Regions from separate parts of the Homo sapiens genome. Here region 1 is linked to region 2. The links come from fine-mapping of genetic effects on gene expression. A gene starts in region 2. The other region holds a variant in brackets. All regions are shown on one strand. Distances are from middle to middle.

Region 1 (4,396 bases), 140 kb after region 2:
TAAGAAGGAACAGTCCTTTTTTATAGTTCATAAGTATAAGCCCTTTAAAATTTTCAATACAGTATTTATGAAATATATGAAAATTAATAGCGTATATAGAAAAGGTACAAACTGGACTAGCCTCTGGAGAAAACTGATTAGAAATGCTGAAATCTTCAAGAGTTGGCTAAGTTTCATAGGAGCATTACTCAAGCCACACTTTAGAGTTCTCATAACTGGTTAACCTAAAAATGTTACTGTGTTCTTGGGGAAAGTTACTATCCTTTGACCACACCAAGAAGGGGAAACTTCATTCACTCCAATGATGACACTTGTTTAACTACTGGAGGGGGATACAAAGTTGCCTTCTGAGGAGATGCTGGCTTTGCCTGCAGGTGCCACTATGGTTTACCTGCACAGAGATATGGAGGTACCTTTATATCTGGACATGCTAGTTAGATTATTCAGGTTTTCATAACCTTTCCATCTGGTTTCTAAAGCATTTATAAAGTAACCAACTTTGATCAACAATATAGAAAACTAATAAAGACAGCACTCCAAAACCTCATCTGTTTTCTTCTGTTCCTTCTGTCTGTTCCTTCAAAGTACGACATCTGCTATCCAGCTTTTGCTGAATGACTGGCTCAAAGAAAGTGTAATTTAGGGAAGATATAAGAGGGGCTATTTGCCCTCCTCTAGGTAAGCAACGTTTTATACTTAGATCAACTTAGGCCAAAGGAACACATCAGCCTAACCTCTCAGAATTTTACCTAAACTGTATTTTATGTAGCTCCATTTCTACATCTGTTGTAAAACTATTTTTGAAAATCACCATCTATCTGTCATTTAATATCTCTTATTGTCAGAAACTTCTTTCTGGCTTTAATGTCCAAGGAAAGTCTGTCTCTCCCTTAAAGAACTGGCATGCTTTCTCTTTCTGATGAGTGCAATATTTTGCCTACATCACCAGCAATCACAGATAGCCATGAAAAAAAAAAAAGAAATTAACTGTATTCAAGAGTTCCAACAGAACTTGCCTGAGTAAAATTAATTTCAGGTGTCTACAGAACATGTGGCTAGAAAGCTCCAACAGGCCTGGACCTCAAGAGAGAGACTTGGGGATAAGTAAAATACTTGGGAATAGTAATAACAGTATTTAATGAGCAATTTCCATACACAAGGCACTGTACAAAAAGTTCACATGCTTTTCACACACATTATACACATAATCCTAAATGATCAGGCACAGGGAAAAAAAAAAAGACTTGAGAAATATGATCACTGGCAGAACAAAGCTCACTCCAAGGCAGGAGAGGAAGACAATGAGGAACACAGAGCAGTGGCTCTTTTCTTAACTTTTACCCTGATCTGAATGGGAGGAAATGCAAGAAATGATTTGGGTGGTCTGATTAGTGTCTAGTCTTCACAGATGGAAGCAAAATAATGTGATGGCCTAAAGATTTTACTTAAAAGCCAGAATTTCATCTAGTAAGTGACAGTAGTTGTATGAAGTGGCACCATGTTGAAGAAGATTCTAAGGGTGTTTCTTGATTCAGCAAGAAGAAATGTTAGGCCATGTTCAATTAGCAATATCTCCAATTACGACTGGCTAGGGAGAGAAGGCTGTTCTGTAATATGGCTGTAACAAGAACACTGAATATTTGCCATCCTAGAACTAAATATTTCTACTCTTGACGTAACTCCATCCTACACATACCAGAAGTCTAATTTTTCTAGTTGCACTGTGATGCAAATAAAAATTCATCTGTCAAAATAGGAAGTGAAGAAAAAGTGGACATTAGATCTGGGCCAAGTTAGGGGGCTGCAGCCACATTTTTTTTTTTAATGAAATAGAAGGAAAAGTATCAAGAATACATCATACATAGGGTTAGAGTTGGATAAAGTTTGGATGTCTGCCCCCTCCAAATCTCATGTTGAAATATAATCCCCAGTGTTGGAGGTGGGGCATGGTGGGAATTGTCTGGGTTATGAGGGCGGATCCTGCATTAATTGCTTGGTGCCCTCCCTGCAATGAGTTCACGCGAGATCTGGCTGTTTAAAAGAGCCTGGCACCTCCGCCTCTCTCTCTGTCACTCCCTCTCTCACCATGCGACATGGCCACAAGTGTAAGCTTCCAGAGGCCCTCACCAGAAGCAGATACCAGTACCTTGTTTCTTGTACAGACTTCAGAACCATGAGCCAAATGAACCTCTTTTCTTTATAAATTACCCAGCCTCGACTACTCCTTTACAGCAACACAAACAGACTAACACAAAGTTGTTTGATAAAATTTTTCCTTTTCATAAATGTATGTATCTATATGGTCATTACATAAAATATGTTTCTTACTATGGGTCTTAGTCAAAAAAATTTTGAAAGTCACTAGATAAGATGATCTCTAAGATTCCTTCTAGTGCTTTTAAAAAAAGAAAAAATATTTATTAACAGTTTTTAACTACTTTTTATTAAAAAATAATCTTCAACATTAAACTCTTAATGATTTAGTTCTTTTAACA[G/T]GTACATAAAATTAAAAGGATAAGAAATATAAATAGCTAACAAGACAACGATGCCTATTTTTGAAATACCTAAGAACTAGGTTTCTGTAACAAGACGTGCCTGTGGTATTCTATTTATGTTACAGTCATTTTGAGGATCAGTGATTTCACTGTATGACATTCAGCTTTCGTAGCTGAACAGCAAATTGGCTGTTACAAAATTTATACCAGAGTCAATGATGTATTTACATTTTCAGTCATAATATTTCTGAAAATATGCCTGAAATTTACAAGTAAAATCTTTCAGTAATATATAGTGTGCTGTGTTTGTGGTTTGGGGGAGGAGGGGTGAACAACGAATATCTCAATGAACTCAACATATTTTATCTTGGTAAAAAAACCCAAACAAATTCCTTAACGTAAATATATCTTTTTTATTATTAACATAAAAGTGACTTGTTTATTGTATAGATTTTAGAAAATACCAAATAATGTGAAAAAAAAATCATCCATAATCCCATATTAAAGTAAACATTGTTCATCTTTGGGAGTTCAGAAACAAATATTAAACAACTGGCAAAAACCAGTATCAGAAACAGATTCTAAACTCTATGTGTCAGTAAGCACAGTATAAAAATTTACTGAGAAACTGTCAAACACCTTCATTCTAATGCAATTTTTATACTCTGTAATTTTTCAACACCAATATTTTGAAGATTACAGAGCAAGCCACACTGAAGCTTTTCATTTATCAGAGGCACTAAGATTCCTTCCAATTGAATGGCACAGATTTTTATGCCAGTTGATAACCAAAATGAGACATCACATGCAATATGTTCTCCGAGGCTTTTTAAAATCAATCGATCAATCAATCAATCAATCTATGTATCTATGTATCTATCTACCTACCTACCTACCTACCTATCTACCTATCTACCTACCTACCTACCTACCTTACTTATTATTTATTGAGATGGAGTCATCTCACTCTGTCACCCACGCTGGCGTGCAATGGCGTGATCTTGGCTCACTGCAACCTCCGCCTCCTGGGTTCAAGTGATTCTCCTGCCTCAGTCTACCGAGTAGCTGGTATTAAAGGTGTATAGCACCACGCCTGGATACTTTTTTTGGTATTTTTAACAGAGATGGGTTTCACCATGTTGGCCAGGCTGGTCTCGAAATCCTGACCTCAAGTGATCTGCCCGCCTCGGCCTTCCAAAGTATTAGGATTACAGGCATGAGACACCACGCTCGGTCAGGGCTTTTATTTTAATACTTAAACCACTACTACGTCAAGTGTTTTCCACAGGCCAGTTATCTATAATAAGTTCAGAAAATGAGATTGCGTAGAAACTTATTTAGCAATTTTACATTGCCGTATTTTAATTATATTTTACAAAAGTCATCAATCAGTCTGCAATGAACTGGAAATTGTTTTTTAAATGGTCTTTGACAACAGATTTTTTTAAAGAAACAAAAATCATTTTATCAACAATTTATATCACATTTAGAGCAAGAGTTTTAAAACAAAGTTTATTCCAGGAACATAATGAAATTTTTCGCTACCTCTTGGCATACTAAGCTTCCTTCCACGTGCATTTTCATTGACCCTTAGTCCCAGCACTTATAACCAGCACCTAATTACTCATTAGGATACAGATATTACTCTCTCTTTGAGAGATGGAAGAGACCCCTTCTACCAGCAGTTCACAGCTTTCCAGCCTCTCCTGCCTCCAAATAACCCCTTCTCTCTTCTATCAAGTGCCTGGAAAAGTGCTTTTGGATCTATTCAAGGTTACTCTCATATATGAACATACTTTATCATCTTAAAGAGGCCCTACTCTTTTCTTTAATAAACATTTATAACCATTGAACAAAGCATATTTTTGCTCAAAGGGCACAGTTTACAAAATGGTATTGTT
Region 2 (4,396 bases):
TCACCTAGATTTTGGCTATCAGCCTAACAATATCAGTAATCTACAATATTCAAGAGCCACAAACCAGCCAGCAAACTTCATATTAAGTATCTAGAAGACTAAGAAGCTGACTTTCTTAATGACTGTTACCTGCATGTTGTTAGAAGCCTGCCCCAATATTAAGTGACTTTTGCTACTCCCCTACACTGTGACCCATTGCTTTTTATATCAGGCAAGAATGTAATAAACACCAACCAGTACGAAGAAAGTACCTTCACCTTAGCAAGCAAACTTCTTAGGCTCCTTGAGCTTCAAACAAGCCAAAGCGATGTTCCCGCACAAAAGCTGACAGTGAATTAACCGATCAGAAAAAAATCCATTATCCTCACCACATAAAAACGTCCTTCTATCTAACCTAAAGTCACCTTTGTATTTCTCAATTCAAGATTGTCCTAGCAAATACAACACAGCAAATTCGTTAAAAGTACACATTCTGGAGTGTGTACTGGCTCCAGAATGTGCCAGCTGATTTGGAATCATAACTCGGCCCTTACTACTGTGTAATCCTGGCCAAGTTACTTCAATGTATCGCCTCGATTTCTCTCCGTAAATCCAGCATAATAATTCTAGCAACTCACAGAGTTGTTGTAGGGAATAAATGAGAAAATTGACATAAAGCGCTTAGAAGAGTGTTTGGCACTTAGCAAGTCCATCATAAACTCTACTTATTAACATCACTATGATGACTAAATAAATGTTAGAAGGGGTCACCTCTAGAGAGAAGAGAATGGGGAAAGAGAGAGGCACTCATAGATCATAACTGAACCTTTACACTTTTGTGAATTTTTCACAATGCGCATGTATTTCATAAGTAACTTGGACAATTTCTGATTTTTAAATATTATCCCAAGAAAATGGTGCTGGGCATCATAACTGATTGTGAAAATGTTCGTGCTGAGCAGCGGATCAGAAGTCGCTGCGGACATCTGGAACGCTCGAGAAATGCCTAGCTCCCCGTTGGTCAGGGCTCCGCGCGGGCCCGAGCTCTCCCGGGGCGCCCCGGGGCTGGAGGGGGCGCGGCGCGGGCCCCACTCTCGCCCGCTCCCGCCGCGCGCTGAGGTTCACTCACGGCCGGGGGATCAGAGGCAGCGACGGGGGCGGGGGAGGCCGCGAGGGGGGCGGGGAAGGCCGCGACGGGAGCGAGGCAGGGCTGGAGGTTCGGGGTCCGGCGAAGGCACTTACTTGAACCTGCCCTGGCAGTGCTGGCACTGGTCCCCCACCCAGCCCGGGTCGCAGAGGCAGGTGGAGTTGACACAGCGGCCCGAGAAGCAGGAGCCGGTCCTCTCGCACGGCTTGGACTGGGACACCTGCGCGTAGAGCGCCAGGTAGAGGAAGCCATAGCACAGCAGCCAGCTGTTCCCGTCCAGCAGCCAGGAGGAGGCGCCCCCGCCGCCGCCGCCCGCCGGCCGAGCCCTCCACACCCCCGGGGCCGCTGGCTGCGGGGTACCAGTGCGGGCCCGGCCCCCAGTCTCCATCTTCCCCGGCGCCCCTGCCCGGCGAGACTGCGCTCGCGGGCGCCGACAGGGATGCTGTTGAAGGGAATTCCGGCCGCAGAAAACCTCTCCGCCGCCGCTTCTCCTCCTCCTCACCGGCGCCCGTCCGAGTCCCGCTCCCCGGTCAGGAGGGACAGATCCCAACCGCCGTCGCCTCCGCTCGGCTGCCTCCAGTCGCACTCGGGCATCGCCACCCAGTCTCCCGACCTTGTCCTTAGCGGGCCGACCCCACAGCCGCGGCGTCCCGGACCCGGCCGGAGGCGGGGAGCGGGAGGCGCAGACTGCGCCCGGCGCTCCTGAGGGGACCTGACCGGCAGGAGGAGGGGACCCCGCGCGCGGCCCCGCCTCGCCCGCGGCCCGCGCCAACTGCCTCGGCTCCGAGCGCCGCGCGCCCAGGAGGGCGGGGGCCGAGCGGGCGCCCCGAAGTGGGCGCGCCCAACGTGGAAGGGGGCGATCAAGGAGGCGGCGGTCAGCCCCGCCTCGCCCGCCCGGCGGTCAAGGGCGCCCCGGCAGCCATTCTGTCTCCGGTGCCTCGAGCCGGCCGCAGCGGCAGCGCCGGGAGCCCACGATGCGTGGGGCCGCCCCCCGCCCTCGCGCGCGCCTACACTCCTCCCCACAGGCCCGGCGCCTTGGTCTCGCCCCGCCCCTGACAGGGACCGGGGACTCCCCCACGCGCGCGCGCCCACCCCGCCTGGCCCGCGCGCTGACTGGAGACAGGCCCCCCAGGTGTGGCCCGCGTGCCCTTCCCCCCGGCCGGTGCGGGCACCCCGGCCCCACCCGCACCCCGCGCCCCGGGAGCCCCACGAATGAGAGATCGACACAGGCTTCGCAGCTTCAGCAGAAAAGAAGTCCTTCCCGTCCGCCGTCTGCAGCTGCAAAAGTGCAACGCTTTTTCCCTAGCGCTTCCCCCTTCCTCCGCCCCATCCTCCTGCCTATTTCTTCTTTTTCTCTTAAGAGAGAAAAACTCCAACAACACACAAAGAGCTGAGCATGTGCAGCAGGCAAAAGCCTTAAAGGCACCGCAGTCCGACCACGTTGTGGGGTCAGCGAGGGCTGGGAGGGGCGGGGATTGGGGACTGCGAGAGGCGCGAGGCGGTCTCCGCGGAGGGACCTCCGAGGGGGAGCCATTGCTGCCTCGGGAATAACGAAGCCCGCGCCCCCAACAAAGAACTGCGAGGCTCCGAGCCCCGCGCTCTCCACCCCTTACAGACGCTGCCTCGAAACCGCACGTCTCTCCTTTTCTGCTTGTCAGTGCTCCCTCCTCCATCTGGGACGATATTCTGCCTTGAAAAATATTGCAGCATCGGGGCTTTTTTTCAGAAGAGCAGAAGTGATGCCCACAAAAGGGCCGTTTTCCTTCCTCAGCAGCACTTTTTCTTCTTCAGATGACTTTCCAAGATTGGCTGGCATATTCTGAGATTTTTGTTTTGTACTTTGGTGCCTTCTCTAAACAGTTGCCTTTTTATTTGACCCCCTTGAGAAAGGAAGCCAAACACACATTGCAGCCATATATCCTCGAGTTACAGCAATGTTGCTGGAGTCCCACCAAAGAACAGGCAGTATGAAAAAGAATTCAAAATCCACCAAAGGCACTTCTCACAGAAAAAAAAAAAAAGAAGAAAGAAAAGTTTGTTGTAACTACATAGTCAAAATATTATTGTTAGGATTCAACTCGTGTTTATTTCGCGTCAGTTCTTTTCATGTCTCTTATCCCCACTTGCAGATGAAATCCTCCATTAACCCCATTTTGCAGATGAGAAAGAGCAACTCAGAAAGGTTGAAATATTGGCCAATGGCAGGTTAGGAGTAATGAACTGAGCTTTAGACACGAGGCCTCTGACTGCTGTGCTTTTTTCACTGCTTCTATTAGCAGATGCTTTGTTCTTCCTTCGGTGAATAAAATATACGTGTTGGCTTGGTTTAAAAATACCTCAGCAGTGACTTAAGGAGGAAAAAATAAAAACAAAGATCCAGAAGGAGTTGGCTCCTTCGCAAGGAAAAGAGCAAAAGGAAAACCACGATTCTCGTTGGCATACAGAACAAATCATAATTTCCATAATTTCAGGGTTTTACCAGTATCAAAAATGTCCTTATCAAACCTAGAATTAGGATGCCCTCTTCTTCCCTTAACATCTTTTCCACATCAGGCTGCCCCTTAGAGACTTCTTGAAATGAGTGAAGAAGCAGAGGAGAGAACACTGCAGACACCAGTTAAAAGGAAGATCCTGTTCTGGATCACATCTTTTCATTTCAATGACTGTGAAATCCAGAAGAATTCTTTCTAGTGTCAGCCATGCATGAACACTGTCTGCTGCTTTTCCATTCTTCTCCATCTGCCAGCCAAAGTCAGCCGCATCTTTCTCACATCTAAGGTAGAGTCGCTTTCAGACGTGGGGAAAGTGGCCAAACTCTTAAAACCGTCAGTGAGTGTGAAGGTAATTCAAAGGGTGCGCTGTAGTCCCTTTGACGAGAGAGATCACAGCTCAGTCACATACTGACTGTAGCCTGTATTTGAGCAGAGCTTGCCCATTAAAAATATACTCATAAGTGGGAGTTGAACAATGAGAACACATGGACAGAGGGAGGGGAACATCACACACCAGGGCCTGTTGTGGGGTGGGGGGCTAGGGGAGAGATAGCATTAGGAGAAATACCTAATGTAGATGACGGGATGATGGGTGCAGCAAACCACCGTGGCACGTGTATACCTATGTAATAAACCTGCACGTTCTGCACATGTATCCCAGAACTTAAAGTATAATAATAATTTTAAAATACATATCTTTTAATTGAATAACCACTATAATCAGCTCAGTACTTCACATTACACTGAAGAACATGCAGCCCCACGGGCCTCCTCTCAA

Direction of the effects. Positions count from the first base shown, and alleles are read on the strand shown. Sizes are in standard deviations (SD) of each study's normalised expression.
As copies of T replace G in region 1, the expression in sigmoid colon of the gene that starts at base 1,900 in region 2 goes down (moderate effect, 0.44 SD a copy in GTEx).

What was found. PIP is the estimated chance that this variant, and not a neighbour inherited with it, causes the effect. A credible set is the group of variants that fine-mapping cannot tell apart.
Region 1: its variant is the best candidate, but not a certain one, in a credible set for the expression of ATRNL1 in sigmoid colon (GTEx, PIP 0.69).

The regions. Positions count from the first base shown.
Region 1 is chr10:114,951,492-114,955,887 of GRCh38, reverse strand. The region is part of intron 3 of TRUB1 (TruB pseudouridine synthase family member 1); the gene reads right to left. Among named protein-coding and RNA genes, the nearest start is that of TRUB1, 15 kb to the right of the region's middle. RefSeq lists a silencer at 2,572-2,621. The variant G/T (reference allele first, on the strand shown) is at 2,496.
Region 2 is chr10:115,090,869-115,095,264 of GRCh38, reverse strand. It overlaps ATRNL1 (attractin like 1), which reads right to left and starts at 1,900. Exons shown (of 29, transcript NM_207303.4): 1 at 1,222-1,900. The coding sequence starts at 1,514. RefSeq lists silencers at 1,330-1,609, 1,700-1,829, 1,860-2,369.